Homo sapiens: one gene and its partner. The protein of the gene in region 1 purifies or fractionates together with the protein of each later gene. This does not show direct contact. Each region holds a gene or a part of one and is shown in the gene's direction. Other genes may lie near its edges.

Region 1 (8,043 bases):
TGACCCCAAGAAATATCTCATTCCTCCAGGAACTATTTTTCACTTTTCCAGTTTTTACCCGGAAAGTTTACTTGGTTGATTAATTCTGAAGAATTTGCCTATCTGGGCTTACAAAGATAGTATACCCCTCCAAAATAAGTTTCCAAGTATGAAATGGAAGGAGAGACATAAATAATACTTAATAAGGGCCTAGAACATAGTAGTTCAGTTTTTAAAATCCCTATAACTGTTATTCTTCTAGATTTAAAAAAGGTGAGGTGTGGTAACTTTCCTGGTAGAGCAGAGATACGAACCCAAGGTTATCTGTCTCCAAAGCCCACACCTACCTAGAGTGGTAATGCCTTCTCTGGAATTAAATGGGAGAGTTAACCCCGCCATATCCACTCCAAATGCATAAACCTAGACTGTGGATCCAGGTTTGAGGGACTACTGGCCAAGACAAGGGACATAGACCCTTCCCCAGCTCCACAGGAAGCCCTGCAAAGACCTTGTTTTTTTTGTACAACTTAATATTCATGTATCCAAACTGGATCTCATTTGGCACTTGCCCCTCTTTTGCCCAGATTTGTATGACAGTATGATGATGGAGCCCTCTCCAAGGATGTGCGTCAGTTCTCTTCATAGAAAGACAGTCTCCTTCTTTGATACATATCAGGAAAGGTCTGATTACTAATTTATTGTGGATGGTTACAGCCTCAAAGTTAAAAAGAGAGAACTGGATCACTCATTGCAAACAGAAGTTAAATCTCCTTGTTCTGCTTGTAAAACTCAAAATTTAAAGAACTTCAGGTAATAGAAAAACTGGACTAAAACTAGACAATGAGGTTCCTAAGATCTAGCCAGTTCTGAAGAATGGACTCCATGATCCCACTATCTAAGCTGTCACCTTGTAACAAATCAGCCCCGGGCCTTTCCTTCCTACATTGGTATTTTCACACATGGTGCTAGAGTGTGCAGGATTTCGTCTCTGAGTGACAGAATCAGGCAGCATTCTCAATGACCCCTAACCTTCGTCGTACTGTAGATGATCTAGCTTTGTATCTGCACATCTTTGCTCCTCCTTTTATCCTTCTTTTTCTCTTTTCCACCATTATCAGGCCTGCCTCCCTGCCTCTCTCCACTCCCCAGGACCCACCTCCCAATAACTACTTAATTCAATGGGTACCCAGTGGCTTTCTTGCTGCTTATAATTCCTGAGGTCTCAAAAGAAAACTTCAGGCACAGCCCTTGGTTTTGCACCTGGTCAGTAATGCCCAGCCAAATTCTAAGATTCTTGGATTAAACCATGCCCATTGCTCAAGAAACCGAAAGAAGACTGTTCAAACAAACATGGTAAATGTACAAACAAATGAGCCTGACCCTATTAAAACATTTTTGGAAAGAAGCAAAAATACAGACACGTAAAAATGCCTAAGTTTTCTCCGTCTACTTCCACACTCACCTTCAATCCTTGCAGGATTTTTCCAGTGTTCAGCATCTACCAAAAGAATCAACCAGACCATGAAATGGGCTAGAACAGAGTTGGACAAAGCACTCCTTTTCTTCCCATGTATTTTCACTATGAGGAAAGGTAAAGAGGCAGCTGGGCTTTATCGCTGTAGAGGCCCTTCACTGCCACCTGACCTCGAGCCCCAAGTCAGGGCCCTCTCCATGCCCCTAGGGAGACTCTGCAAGGATTCAGAGCCATGCATTTTGCCCTGGGACTCTCAACATTAGCCTGGTCTCTAAGCCTGAGGCTCTTCAGTTCTTCACAGCATTGTACTGTAGATTCATCCAGAGTCCCAGGTCCCCATGGGAAGGTAATTTTAAGTTTACCCTCTCTTCAGATCCAGAGGTTAACACGACAAGAAATTCAAAGCTGTTTCCAGGTTGCTGGGTGGATGTGATCAAGATTGTTCTGTAGTCCCTTTGGGCTGGGAGCCTGCGTGATCTTCTAATGCATAGGGCAAGTCATCAATATTTCCACAGGGAGTCACCTTAGGTATTTTAGGAATTAAATTATTTTCTTCCCAAGATTAGTGTTTAGGAACTGGGTCAGTGAAGCACTATCAAATTATGGAAAGCGTTAAATTTGCAGATAGTTTCCACAGTTAATTAAGTTACTTTGTGCCCAGAGATACATGCACTATCTTCCTAAAATCACCACTTCAGGGAGGTCATACGATCATGGAAATATGAACTTATCTTTTGCCATAGTTTATTCACTTATCTCCATGGAAATTAAAGGGCAAGGGGGAAAATAAGCTAATAGGTGTTTCTTACCTACAAGTGTTTGGTCAAGCTCCACCTGCAGGCATTTTTTATTAACCCATCAATGTACTCCCCAAGGAATGGGAATTAAGGGGCAGAAATATCCAAGCACTTCTGGGAAACTTTAAAAAAATGCATGTGACGTCTGGCAGCGTCTGGTCTCCCCAACTGTATTCAGCCTTGAGGGTGTTGTGGATAGACACGCCCTGCTCCATACATTCTCGGTTTCTCTGATAGCTGCAAAAGGTGAATGATTTCCCCGCTGTAAAACAACAGCTAAAATTGATACCGACATCAACCACAAATGGAAAAAGCAGTGTTATTTCTGGTTTTAACAGAAGACAATCATGTTATCCTCAGCAAATGGCACATTCATGTGTCAAGGATAGGGGAATACAGTCATGAAGAAAAAAAGAAAAAAACCCTGCTCTAGTGGAGCTTCCATTCTAGCTGAGGTAGGGTTTTTTTTTGTTTGTTTGCTTGTTTTTGTTTTGTTTTAATCCTATCCAGGTGGTCCACGGCCTGCCATGCCATCTTCCTTCTCAAAGTCCACTTAGGTGGCTGCAAGCAACCTCTCACCTGCCCATTCCCTAAGTCACTCTAAAAATAGCAAAGGGTTTCCAGCTGAGAATTCACCCACCTCCAACTCACTCTCTTGCCCCCCAACCTTTTCAGGCTCCAAACTTGCAGACAGCAGCCCACAGGATAGACATAAAAGGTGGGGCAGGTCCTTGCCCCCCTTGCCCCAAATGAAATCAGGGTAAGGAGAGGATCCCCTGCAGCTGGGGAGGGGAGGAGGTTGGGTAAGAAAGGGGGAAAGTGGGACATGGAGGTGGGGTGAGCCACCTTCCCTGGCGGCGACCAGCATTCCTTGGTGGCAGGACACCTTGGCCCTGGAGTCTCGAAGAGGCCTCCCTTGGACTCTGTAGCGACCACGGGTCCCACCTCAAGCCTCCTTGGCTTTACCTTCCCCATCAAATAGTCATGTGCCCTCCTGCCCTGCCCAACCCCAGAGTTCAAGAGAGAAAAACATTCATTACGAACGCCTTTTATCCCTGGCCAAATCCAAGCCTCTTTACCTCGCTATATATATATAGATATACATATTTGTCTCATCCCACTTCCCTCTCCAGGTCTAGTGAACCATCAACTCCAAGGCTAGAGCTGAGCAGACCCCTCCAGAAAGGCTCATCTCCCAAAAAGCAGCCATTCCCCACCTGGCTCCCGAGGCGCATACTTAATAAAGTCAGTCTAATCTCCGAACGCGATCCTTCCCCAAATACAAAAATAACAGAGCTGTGGCTGGGGCTGTCATGTTGCCCGCCCCATTGTGAATGGCTTCAAAACTCCCTGAATAAAGATAAGAGAGGATTGTGTACGTTTTCAACACAAATGGTGGAAAGTAATAAAATAAACATCAAAGGTGAGCTCCCACCTACTAGCGGCTCCGTCGCTTTTTGTGCAACAAAGGCAGGAAAAAGGAGGAAACTCGGCGTGGCAGGGCAGCGGGCTGGAAGTGCACCTTCCCGGGGCCGAGGCGCCCGCTCCCTGGACTAATGACGCCGCGTGGGGATCACGCCCCGGGCGCCCTGGGGTGAGGAACGGTCCCCCCTTTCGAGATTGTCCGACACTGGTGCCAGTGAGGTCACAGCAAAAGTCCCAAAGGAATATTGGAAAGAAATGGCCGTGAACCGGTTTGTTCTTGCCCCCGCCCCCGGGAACACGCCCTCTCCGTCGTTCCTGTTGACTGTCAGATCCCGGGAACCAAGCGGCGGAGCTCGGCGGCATCTGAGGCTTCCGCAGGGACACAAGTGCAGGCACAGCCCAGCACCCTGCGCCAGACACAGCCGCCCCAGGGGAAGAGGAGGACGCTGCTGTCCTCCCGCAGGAGTCACCAGCCAGGTAAAGAAAAAGGTAAAGTAAGACAAAGAAAAGTGAAAGTCGGAGCCCATTTAGTGAGCAAGAGTAAAGGTCATCCAAAAAGGCGCATACAATTTCAAGCCCAGGAGTGCATTCATTAAAACAAGAGGAAAAGACAAGATGGTCCTTGAAAGGAGCTCATAGGAAGGGGCACAGCACAAGGCTCCCGAAAGAGGTCACTGCAAGTGTCCTGCGCAATTTCTGTTCAGCACCTCTGCAGTGACGACAGGGGTTTGCTTTCGTAAGCAGCATCGTTTTCACTACTACAGAAGCACATACGCCGCGTGCAGCTTAGGCCCGAGCAAAGTCCCTGCTCCCCTAGACCCAGTCCCTTCAGGTGTCCCCCTAGGGGAACTGTGGCGTGTCCCCCCAACCAGGCGCACTCGCCTAAACTGCGTCCCCGAACTCCAGGGCGCAGGGAGCCCTCGCGGGCTGCCCGGGGCTGGGGCCCACACCTGAACGGAGGAGCCGGCTGGCGGAGCGGCCCCGCGCGCGCACACACGCACACTCACAGACACGCGCAAACCCACAGCGGCGCGCGCGCTCCCCATTGGCGGGAGGAGGAAGGCGGGGCCGGCCGACCCAAAACAAACAACCTGCGCCAGCGACTTTGCCGCCGCGCTGCAGTGTGGCCTCCGCCTGGTGCGCGCCCGTTGGGGAGCTGGGGAACTGGGGAGCCGCCACCACCTCGGCCACCTCGTTCCCCCACCCCTTGCCGTCCGCGCTCAGGCCCCGCCCCCGCGGAGCCGCCGCAGGGTTATATTGGGCCGGCCCGAAGGTGGAGGCGAGACGCAGCCGCGGCAGGCCAGCGGGGAGATGCTGCCCCGGAGGCTGGGAGCGGGAAGGCGGCTGCGGGCGCAGCGGCCTCGGGGACTCGCCTCCGCGGGTGCTCAAGGCTGAAGGCGCCGGACCTTCCCCCACGGTGGCACGCACATCATCCGGCACCATTTCCGTGCCCCGAAGACGCCCGCGCGGGACCTGGGACCGCCAGTGAAGAACCCCTCCTGGGCTCTTTAACGAGCAGCAGATGCGCATGCTGCTTCTCTCCGGCAGGAAAGCCTTCTAAGCCCGGCGTGCTCGGGCACCCGAGGGTGGAACCGCGGCCCCTGCACACACTCACCCCAAAGTCTCAACGTCGAACCGAAGGCGACACCCACCCAACTCCTCCCTCTCCGCCCCATAGTCCACCCAACACTTGCAGCCCCTCCAGAGAAAAAGCCCAGCGGAAGAGGACTCCGGAAAAGTGACTATCTCGGAAGACCAGGGTAGAGCTCCCGGGAGAAAAAGGCGAAGATCCCCGGCCCCGGATCGCCATCCCCTTCCCTGGCACCAGCTTCTCTAGGCTGCGCGAAGGAAGAGGGTACGACGCCGGGGAGGGACTGGGTGCGCGGGCATGAAGTTGGAGGTGTTCGTCCCTCGCGCGGCCCACGGGGACAAGCAGGGCAGTGACCTGGAGGGCGCGGGCGGCAGCGACGCGCCGTCCCCGCTGTCGGCGGCGGGAGACGACTCCCTGGGCTCAGATGGGGACTGCGCGGCCAACAGCCCGGCCGCGGGCGGCGGCGCCAGAGATACGCAGGGCGACGGCGAACAGAGTGCGGGAGGCGGGCCGGGCGCGGAGGAGGCGATCCCGGCAGCAGCTGCTGCAGCGGTGGTGGCGGAGGGCGCGGAGGCCGGGGCGGCGGGGCCAGGCGCGGGCGGCGCGGGGAGCGGCGAGGGTGCACGCAGCAAGCCATATACGCGGCGGCCCAAGCCCCCCTACTCGTACATCGCGCTCATCGCCATGGCCATCCGCGACTCGGCGGGCGGGCGCTTGACGCTGGCGGAGATCAACGAGTACCTCATGGGCAAGTTCCCCTTTTTCCGCGGCAGCTACACGGGCTGGCGCAACTCCGTGCGCCACAACCTTTCGCTCAACGACTGCTTCGTCAAGGTGCTGCGCGACCCCTCGCGGCCCTGGGGCAAGGACAACTACTGGATGCTCAACCCCAACAGCGAGTACACCTTCGCCGACGGGGTCTTCCGCCGCCGCCGCAAGCGCCTCAGCCACCGCGCGCCGGTCCCCGCGCCCGGGCTGCGGCCCGAGGAGGCCCCGGGCCTCCCCGCCGCCCCGCCGCCCGCGCCCGCCGCCCCGGCCTCGCCCCGCATGCGCTCGCCCGCCCGCCAGGAGGAGCGCGCCAGCCCCGCGGGCAAGTTCTCCAGCTCCTTCGCCATCGACAGCATCCTGCGCAAGCCCTTCCGCAGCCGCCGCCTCAGGGACACGGCCCCCGGGACGACGCTTCAGTGGGGCGCCGCGCCCTGCCCGCCGCTGCCCGCGTTCCCCGCGCTCCTCCCCGCGGCGCCCTGCAGGGCCCTGCTGCCGCTCTGCGCGTACGGCGCGGGCGAGCCGGCGCGGCTGGGCGCGCGCGAGGCCGAGGTGCCACCGACCGCGCCGCCCCTCCTGCTTGCACCTCTCCCGGCGGCGGCCCCCGCCAAGCCACTCCGAGGCCCGGCGGCCGGCGGCGCGCACCTGTACTGCCCCCTGCGGCTGCCCGCAGCCCTGCAGGCGGCCTCAGTCCGCCGCCCTGGCCCGCACCTGCCGTACCCGGTGGAGACGCTCCTAGCCTGAGTAGCGCCGCGGGGCCCGGGAACGCCGAGTGCGCGCCGTCGGGGAGGCGGGAACGCGGGCCCGCGCGCGGACTTTGCACTTTGAATCCAGAGGAAGATGAATTTTTAAAATCTCCATCAAACGTGCCTTAAAGCTAAAGCATTTTGACAGGAGTATTTAAACTTAGTCCAGGATATTTTCCTTTGTGTTTTATAACTTTACAGAGGACCAAAGCAATTCTTGTTTTAGTTTCTTTGCGAAGCCTGCTCCTCCTTCCCTTCATAAGGACTTTTTTTGTCTTTCTTTAACGCCCAGGCTTCGTCTTATTTCTACTGTTTTTGTCGCAACTTCCATTGATTTATGTCCCTTCCCTCCCCCCTAAGTACATCAGGGAACCTTTCCACACTATAAATGATATGACTACTGTTTGGGGTTTCTGGGCCCCCATCCGTGTACGTATGTGGCATTTCCAGGTATGACTGAGTGTGAGAGACATGTCAGAGGCTCTTCAGTGATTTCTTGCTATTGACCGATGCTTCACTGTGCCAAAAGAGAAAAAAAATGTTGGGTTTTGTAATTAAATTATTTATATATTTTTGAAACCCGAATTGAAAATGTTGCAGGCAACGGGCTACAGCTTTATTAGTGGTTCTCTAACTGTGGTCTCCTTGGGCCAAGCAATTTCTTTAAAGGAAAAGTTGATTATGTATGTGGGGTGCCAGGACCACTGCCTTGAAAGCAAGTGTGATTTTTATTTTTAATATTATTTTATTTGTGTCTGTGTACATATTCATGTATAAATTTTATGAAACCCAAGCATAGTGCTTATTTTTTAATAAAACAACTGACTTAACACATTGTGATGATGGGTTGGAAGTGGAGAGATTTTTATGTCTGTCCCCCCTCCCAAAAAAATGGGCTCAGGTTTTGGTCTCAAGAAACTTCCTCTGGAGATAAAAATATTTTCCTGAATAATTCGATAAAGGTATTATAGAATGGGCTTGCAGATTTCCGTATGAGATGCATTGCTAGACAGATTTCCAGATAGGACTTCCATTCATGGGCTTTTTAAAAGTTGAAAACCAATTACTCCTCTAATTAGTCACCTAAGTGCTTCCAGAACAAATGAGAGGGAAGTGTCCCTCTCTCCCCCAAGAATCCTTAGCAGGCAAGTTGAGTTCTTAACAAGCCTAGAGTCAAACAGATATTTTCAGGTAAATTGGTTTCGATTTGGGGCTCAAAAAGTTGGAGCCCCAATTTTTTTGACAACTTTTTTGTCATAAGACTAT
Region 2 (7,209 bases), on another chromosome or scaffold:
GATAATACTGACTTGCTGCATGGCAAGTTTTTAGAAGGGTTCAGCAATCCATTTTAAACTCTTTGTAAATGTTAGCTACTGCCATGAGGCTTAGTAGCTGTGCGCCATGAGCTGCTGCAAACATTATCTTACAATAATCCTCTGGGGTCTGCTGCTTTCCCCCTTTACAGATAAGGAAATTTGAGGCTCCAGGACTTGAAGTAACCTGCCCCAGGCCACACAGCTAGGAAGTGCCAGAGCTGGGATTTCAATCCTGTTCTGTCTAGTTCCAAAGCCTCCACTCTTCCAGTTACCCCGTTTTCCACCACTGATGTCCGGTGACGTTAGCTCTCATTCCACTGGCCCCCAGCTCATCTGGCTCTGGGGCCTTTGCTGTGATGACCTGCCCTGCCCCTGCTCTGTAAGGCAGGCTTGGAGTTCCTAAGAAATAAGGAGCCTTCCCCAGGGTCCAGCCTCAGGGTGGAAGATGCTGGCAGCTAATGCTGAAGGCATGTATGCATGAGCAAACACTGCCAGGGCTGTGAGCTTAAAAATGGATCCCTCTCTACTCAGAGGGAACCCCATGACTCTGCGGTTTTTTAAATGCATGCATTCTTTATCTCAGGCTTGGAAACAAACATTGAGAAATTATTTGTGAAACGGGGGTGCAGGGAGTTGGGGGGTGCTTGAAGACATAAATCTTTACATTACAGTCTATTAACAGACTTCCTTCAGCGAGACATTCATGTGAACTGAGCTGGGGGCAAAGGTTTTGGGGGTGCTTCCCCCTGCCACCCACCCAGTGAAGGAGCAAGAGGAATGGGAAGAGCCACTCCCTCCCTCCCTCCTGAGGTGGCCACGCCTCCCCTGCCCTCCCCAACTCAGCTGTACTCACCACCGACTTCATTGCAGCAGCAGCAGCTCCAGGCGCAGCACCTCTCCCATGCCACACACGGCCCCCCGGTCCAGTTGCCACCCCACCCGTCAGGTCTCCAGCCTCCAGGAATCCCCCCAGTGACAGGGAGCAGCTCCGGGCTGCTGGCACTGGGCGCCCTGGGCAGCCAGGCCCATCTGACGGTGAAGGATGAGAAGAACCACCATGAACTCGATCACAGAGGTGCGGCTGGGCTGGGGCAGAGGGTGGGGCGGGGCAGGGGTGGGCATGGGCGCTCATAGGCCTCACAGTGAGTGGACCCAGCAAGTGCTGTCGTCCTAAGACCAGGAGTTACCAAGGATTTGGAGTCATCTGTTGATACCTGGTGCAGGGAAGCCAATGCCATCCGCATCCCATGCACCTTTTCCTACTCCTTGGTGTGGACCTGGTATTCTCTGTCCTGAAGACCCTGTCTGTTCATCTGGAGCTCGCTCCCATCTTCCTACAACACCCTTGCCTGTCCTTCAGGGGCCAGCCCCAGTCCAACCCTTCAGGATGCCTTCCTGGTCAGACTAGGGGCTTTTTCAAGTTCCTGTAAGAGTTTAAGAGTTGGGATGCCAAAGTTGAGTCCTTGTTACTGTCGTCTTACATCCTACCCCTGGAAAATGTCTTGTGCTCACCACGATCATTAGTTCCCTAGGACAGGTGCCAAGTTCTTGGGTGTTTTCCTTACATCTATGTCTCACCAATGCAGAAACCTGGGAAAGGTGCACAGTCAGTGCTCAGGTAAAGGTTTGTTAGCTGACTGCCTGTAAGTGGGGGTAGTGCACACCCCAGCAAGAGATCACATAGACTTGGAGTCAGAACTTGTTCTCTGACCCTCTCTGCAGCCCCTACCATGAGGACCCATGAAGCTGCACCGAGCTTGGCCTCAGGAGTGGTTCATTGGATCAGAAAAGAGAAAAGCCTGGCTCCCTGGGAGGCCCTTTTCAAAAATTGGTGCCAAATGCACTCTGCCCTTAGATACGGTATTTACTGGGGCACGTAGCCAACACCTTCTGAGCACTAGGGACCTGGAATGTCACCATCCTGCCTTGGCCCAGGCCACAGGGTGGTAGCCGGTCCAGGGAACTGGAGGCTACATTTTTTTGTCTTACAGTAGGATGGTCCTTTTGGCAGAGGAAGAGGGGCCTCTCCATAGCAGACAGGAGAACTGGGGAGCTAGTGCTTAGCTGGGCACAGTTTCAGAGGCTTCAGCTTTTAGGGGCATCCTGACAAAGAATCACAGAATGGTGTTAATTTCAAAAACAAAATTAAACCACTGTTAAATTCCTTTTTTTTTTTTTTTTTTTAACAATAAAGTTCTTAACTCCCAGGTCCTACTGGTATTTTATATGGCATGATCCTTCTCAAGCTTGTGATCTTAAGACCCCTAGCCTGCTAAAGAGTAAACTTGGTGCCCTCTGGCATGACAGGGAGAACTGGGTCAAAGGCCTACCCTCCCCACCCTGGGGACTGGGCCTCCCTTGCCCACCCTGGGGACTAGAGGGGTGGGGGCAGCATTGGAATTTGGGTGGCAAATTTCCAAACCGAGAAACGCCACCTAATGGCCCTGCCTTGGCTGATCCACGGAGACAGCAATCCAGGCCTTCTGCTCATTTTAAAACCAGTGCACTAGCAAATCACAAAAGCCAGCTGGACTTAGACTGACCTTTTTCCTTTCTTTTTTGTCTTTTTGTTTTGGGGTGCCTGACCTTCCTCCTGTCCTGGCCTTCTTTCCCCAAAGAGAGAGAATCCAGTGCGGTAAGTGTTGGCACTCTGGAACCCGGAGGGGTGTTTGGGTGCTGGGAGGAGGTGGGACTCGGGGCTCCCAGAATCGCGGGCCTGAGACCAGTCAGTCGGTATCCAAAGCTGGCTTCTGGGTTCCCGCTTCTGCTCTGTGGGTTGTAACTAGGGATTTTGTTGTTTGTTTACTCTTGCTGAGCTGGGAGCTTCAGTGCTGATGTCTTAGTCCAGAGCCAGTGGCAGGGTGAGGGGTAGCTACTGTCATAAAATGGGAGCTGCTGTCGTCACCTGTTGAGAGTGACCTTCAGTTGTGGAAGCCCTTCCTCTCTCCAGGCTTTAGGTCTGCCATTTGTCAAATGAAGAGCTTGGGCTAAATGAGCTCTAACTCCGTTTCATATGAGAGGTGATACTCTGAGAGGTCAGCTGACCAGCCCTGGATCTTCCATTGCGAGGGGCTTTGTGGAGTCTCTGGGCTAAACCCAGGGCTAAGGACCCAGGTGTCCCATGTTCAGGGCCAAGGTTTTTACCACCCCCCTGCTAGGATGCCTCCTGTATGATCTTGCATCCTCCTCATTCCCTTCAAACGCCTGCAGTTTCTCCCTGCTCTGGGCTTTCACTCGATTTAAGAAAGTGCTAGCAGGCGAGCATTAAGGCCAGGCCGCCTGCGTGTCTGCCAGCTCTGAGATTTGTTGTAAATCTTTCTGATCACACTGAGGCTCCGAGGTTCTGTTTCAAGTGAATAAGCCTTCTGAATAAGCGCAGTGGAGTCTGGATAAAAAAAATCCTCCAGCGATTAGCAAAGCTATTTTATTCCTCATCGCTGTCCTTGTATCTGGGGCCATCTAATCTGTTAGGATGGCTTTGGTTATTACCTCGTGTTAAGTAGGACTTGGAAGGTCAGGCAGTTAACTAACCATCTAGACAGCAGCTTCCTTGCGCAGCTCTCTCCAATCCAGCCCTCCTTCCCTTCCTGGCCCTCCCCCTACCCAGGCTGACTTTTTAAACCTCCCATTAGCAGTGAGGCTGGCGTCCGTGGCCTCTTGACCCGCCTACATGCTCAGAAATCCAGGACCACATTTGGGCTGAGGAATGGCTAGGTACCTAAGAGAGGAGTCATTGAAGCTGAAAATCCATGTTCACTGCCTCGGTACTGATCCTCTAACAGTGGCATTTTTTCGGAGAGGCAGTTTGCCTAGATAGGCGGAGGCCTGGATTGGACATTTTAAGGCTGAGGTCTGGTCCCAGCTTTATGAGGCCCTGTGTAGTTCTCTTGGCCTCTCTGAGCCTCAGTTTCCTTATCCATACCATGGGAATAATTCCTGCTTGACCAACCTCTCAGCTTTGTTTCGGAAGACCCTTTATAACCTGACTGAGGATCCAGATTACCTGGCTAGCAGGGACCCACTTCAGTGGAATTGGAGGGGGAGTGGGAAGCCCAGCACTCTCTAAAGAGCATGAGTCTTTACCTCATCCTCATCCCTATTGGCTTCTGGCTTTGTGCCCCATCTGTGAAAGTTTTCTGCTAAAAGACCCCCCCTGGGAACCCCCAAGAGCTGGGCTGTTTACCATGCTCGCTGAGGTCCATGCATGGCACACATGGGCCTCAGGAAACTCCAGTGGGAATGAATCAAGATGCTGGGCAGAGGCAGCAGTGGGCAGGGCCGAGGCTGTGCGCATGGCATGTGGCGTGGTGACGGTGTCAGCGGCGGTGTAGACTGAAATAATCAGGCTTTGGAAACCAGGTTGTCAACAGATGAGGCCTACGGCAGGAAGGACAGGGCTGTGTCAGAGTGGGAGGGGGGATGGGGGGACGGGCTGGAAGCTGTCCCAGAGGGGTTAGTCTGGAGTCCAATTAGTGGTAGCTTCATTCATATTTCCTTGCCTAGCCGAAGCAATAAAAAATACTTAGTTTTTTGGCCGCCTGCCAGCCAGAGGCGGGCTGGATCGATGCCGCTAAATGCCTGACATGACTCTCCGGTAGCGGCGAGGGTTTTCAGCCTGACTGCATGAGAAGAAAGAGCTCGCTGTTCTCCCGAGCCGAGCACCGGGTCGCGAGGAGAAACACGAGCAGCCGCACGCCCCCTCCCCTGCCCGCCCGCCTGCAAGGGGCAGCCAGTGCGAGGGGCTGGAAGCATTTCTGCTTAGCACAGGGTGGCCACCACCGTCAGAGGAAATGAAATGAAATGACGGTGATTTTTCTGCCGGCGATTGCAGCAGCTAATTGAATTGTGGCTGTGCGCGCATCGCCACCGCTCCTGCACGGCTGTGGGGAAGGTTGAGCTGCAGTTCCATTATAACCTCCATTTTTTCTTCAAGGCTTGATAACTCTGCCATTTTAATTTGCTTCGGGCAGAAACTTGGCCGGGTAGGGCTGCCCAGAACCCGGCTTAGGAAAGGAAATTAAGTTCTGAGGCTGGTTGCCGCACTATTCCCACCGAATACTGCCCAGCCCCGTTCCCTCCAAGTGGCCCTTGCCCCTGAGCCACGCTTGGCCTCTGGGAAAGTGGAGAAGAGAAGGGAAGCCTCATTCCACTTGCCTTCTGATGCTCTTCTCTTCTGAACAGATGTCCCTCTGGGTCTCCATATGACCTCCTGTGTTGCATGGGGACTGGGACCTGGGATGGCCTGTCCTTTTCTTCCAGCTCCATCATAGCTGGACCATGAGCTCCTGGAGGGCAGGGATTGTATCTCATTCATTCTGCCACTCCTGGCCTGCAGCACCAGGGCTGACCCAGGGCAGCTGCTCGGAAATTGGTGGGTGGGTGAAGGTAAAGTTTGGACTCTTAGAAAGGAGTAAACCTCACCAATATCATAGAGGGGCATTGGTCCTGATATTAGTCTCTGGGCACAGAGGTTTGCTGGCAGGTGCCCTTGCCAGTTGCACTTCCCTCCCTGCTCCCCAGCTCGGTGGTAACAGCCACATGGTGATTTCTGACCACTATCAACCCCTAGGACTACTCCGTCATCTTCCCTCTTCCCAGGCCTCCCATCCCAAAGGCTTCTCATCCTCATTTGCTTTATAGTTGAGGGAGAACTCACGAAATTTTGGGGTTCCCTTTGTGCCACCTTCTGCTAGGGGAGCTTGGGCACATTCACCAACCTCTTGGGGTCTCCACTTGGTGATGGCTACAGAGGCAGTGACTGTCCCTGCCCTTGCTCCTTTCCCTGTCTGTCAGAGGGAAAGGCTTCATGACGTGGCATTTTTGTTTTTTTTACAACCCTGGTGTTTCTCCAGAGTTGCTGACAGCCTCACCGTGGAGGCGGGGGTGTTCACACAGAACGCTTGGCTGCTCATCTCCACTGGGAAGTTGGTGGCTGCCTGACGCCCTCCTTCCCTATCAATCTCCCCATTCCTGTCGGGCTCAGCAAATGAAGTATTGCTCATGGCCCCTGCCTGTCAGCTCAGATCCATCTTACAAGACTCAGTGCAAATTCCACTTATCCCTCCTTTGAGCAAATGAGTGTGGCAAGCGCGAGATGGGTGGTGAATGAGACCCAGGTGACCCTCGCCCTCACAGAGCGTAGTCCCACAGGCCAGAAGGCAGACGGCTTACTGCAGGGTTAATTATTTAATAGCAGTGCAGAGCTGCAAAAGAGAATTGGGGATGCGCCCAGGGCATCTCCCCGGGGACTCAGTCTCAGGGGAGTGGGGAAGGCTTCCCTGGCAAGGCTCTGATGGAGCCACGATCTGCAGGGCAGAGAGGAGTTCAGCTTCTCTTCCCTCCCCTGACCTCCGTGTCACCTGCACTTAGCTGTGTGCGGATGTGTGAATTGTTACACGCAGCAGAAAGTTTTAACCCCGAACCCTCTTTTTCCTTCCAGAATAACTCTGTGTCACCCTCGGAAAGCCTCCGGGCCAGTGAGAAGCACCGGGGCTCTGCGGACTACAGCATGGAAGCCAAGAAGCGGAAGGCGGAGGAGAAGGACAGCTTGAGCCGATACGTACGTCCAAGGCGCCATGGCACCACTGGGGTTTCTGTTGGGTAGGGCAGGGGGTGTCTGCAGGGCCCAAGCTGTGGCCAGGGTCTTCTTGTGGTTGGCAGTGAGTCAGAGAAGCACAGGTTGGCGATAGGGGACCCTATTGAGGAGAGCAGGGTGGGAACAGGGCTAGGGTGAAGTTCACACACGCTATGAGCATGCGAGCCACTGTGGGGCGGAGGTGGATGGGGAGGTCGTCCTAGCCTCCATGGGGTCTCTTCCCACAGACAGGCCAACAACCCCATGCTGCTGTCATGGTGCTGCCGGAATCCCACTTGGCTCTAAGGGGCTGCTCCCAGTGACCCCCAAAATGTGGACCCTATAGTCCTCTCAGTTGGCCTGAGGCATGCACTCACTTGGCCACCCAGTCATGGCTTTTACTAGCCTTTTAATGGGATGCCCCCGGCACGTGAGACCCTAGTGGAAGCATGGCTGTTGTGTTTCCCCTGTGTCAGGCTGTGCAGGGCTGAGAGCTGGGACAGAGGGAAGGGGAGGATATGGTGCAGGGCCTCAGCGGTCTTGCACCCAGCCCTCTTCAGCCACATGGCTGCTGTGTGGCTTTGGACACATTGAGCACCCAAAGGACACTCAGC

The links.
Region 2: the proteins of FOXQ1 (region 1) and TLE3 purify together in Homo sapiens (affinity purification with mass spectrometry; 2 studies listed by BioGRID and IntAct, with this or other methods). This does not show direct contact.

The regions. Positions count from the first base shown.
Region 1 is NC_000006.12:1,307,142-1,315,184, forward strand, and holds FOXQ1 (forkhead box protein Q1), read left to right. Parts: upstream 1-4,956; 5' UTR 4,957-5,563; coding exon 5,564-6,775; 3' UTR 6,776-7,617; downstream 7,618-8,043. UniProt on the Homo sapiens protein: Plays a role in hair follicle differentiation.
Region 2 is NC_000015.10:70,059,901-70,067,109, reverse strand, and holds part of TLE3 (transducin-like enhancer protein 3), read left to right. Parts: intron 1-891; coding exon 892-1,096; intron 1,097-2,639; coding exon 2,640-2,656; intron 2,657-6,460; coding exon 6,461-6,580; intron 6,581-7,209. UniProt on the Homo sapiens protein: Transcriptional corepressor that binds to a number of transcription factors. Inhibits the transcriptional activation mediated by CTNNB1 and TCF family members in Wnt signaling.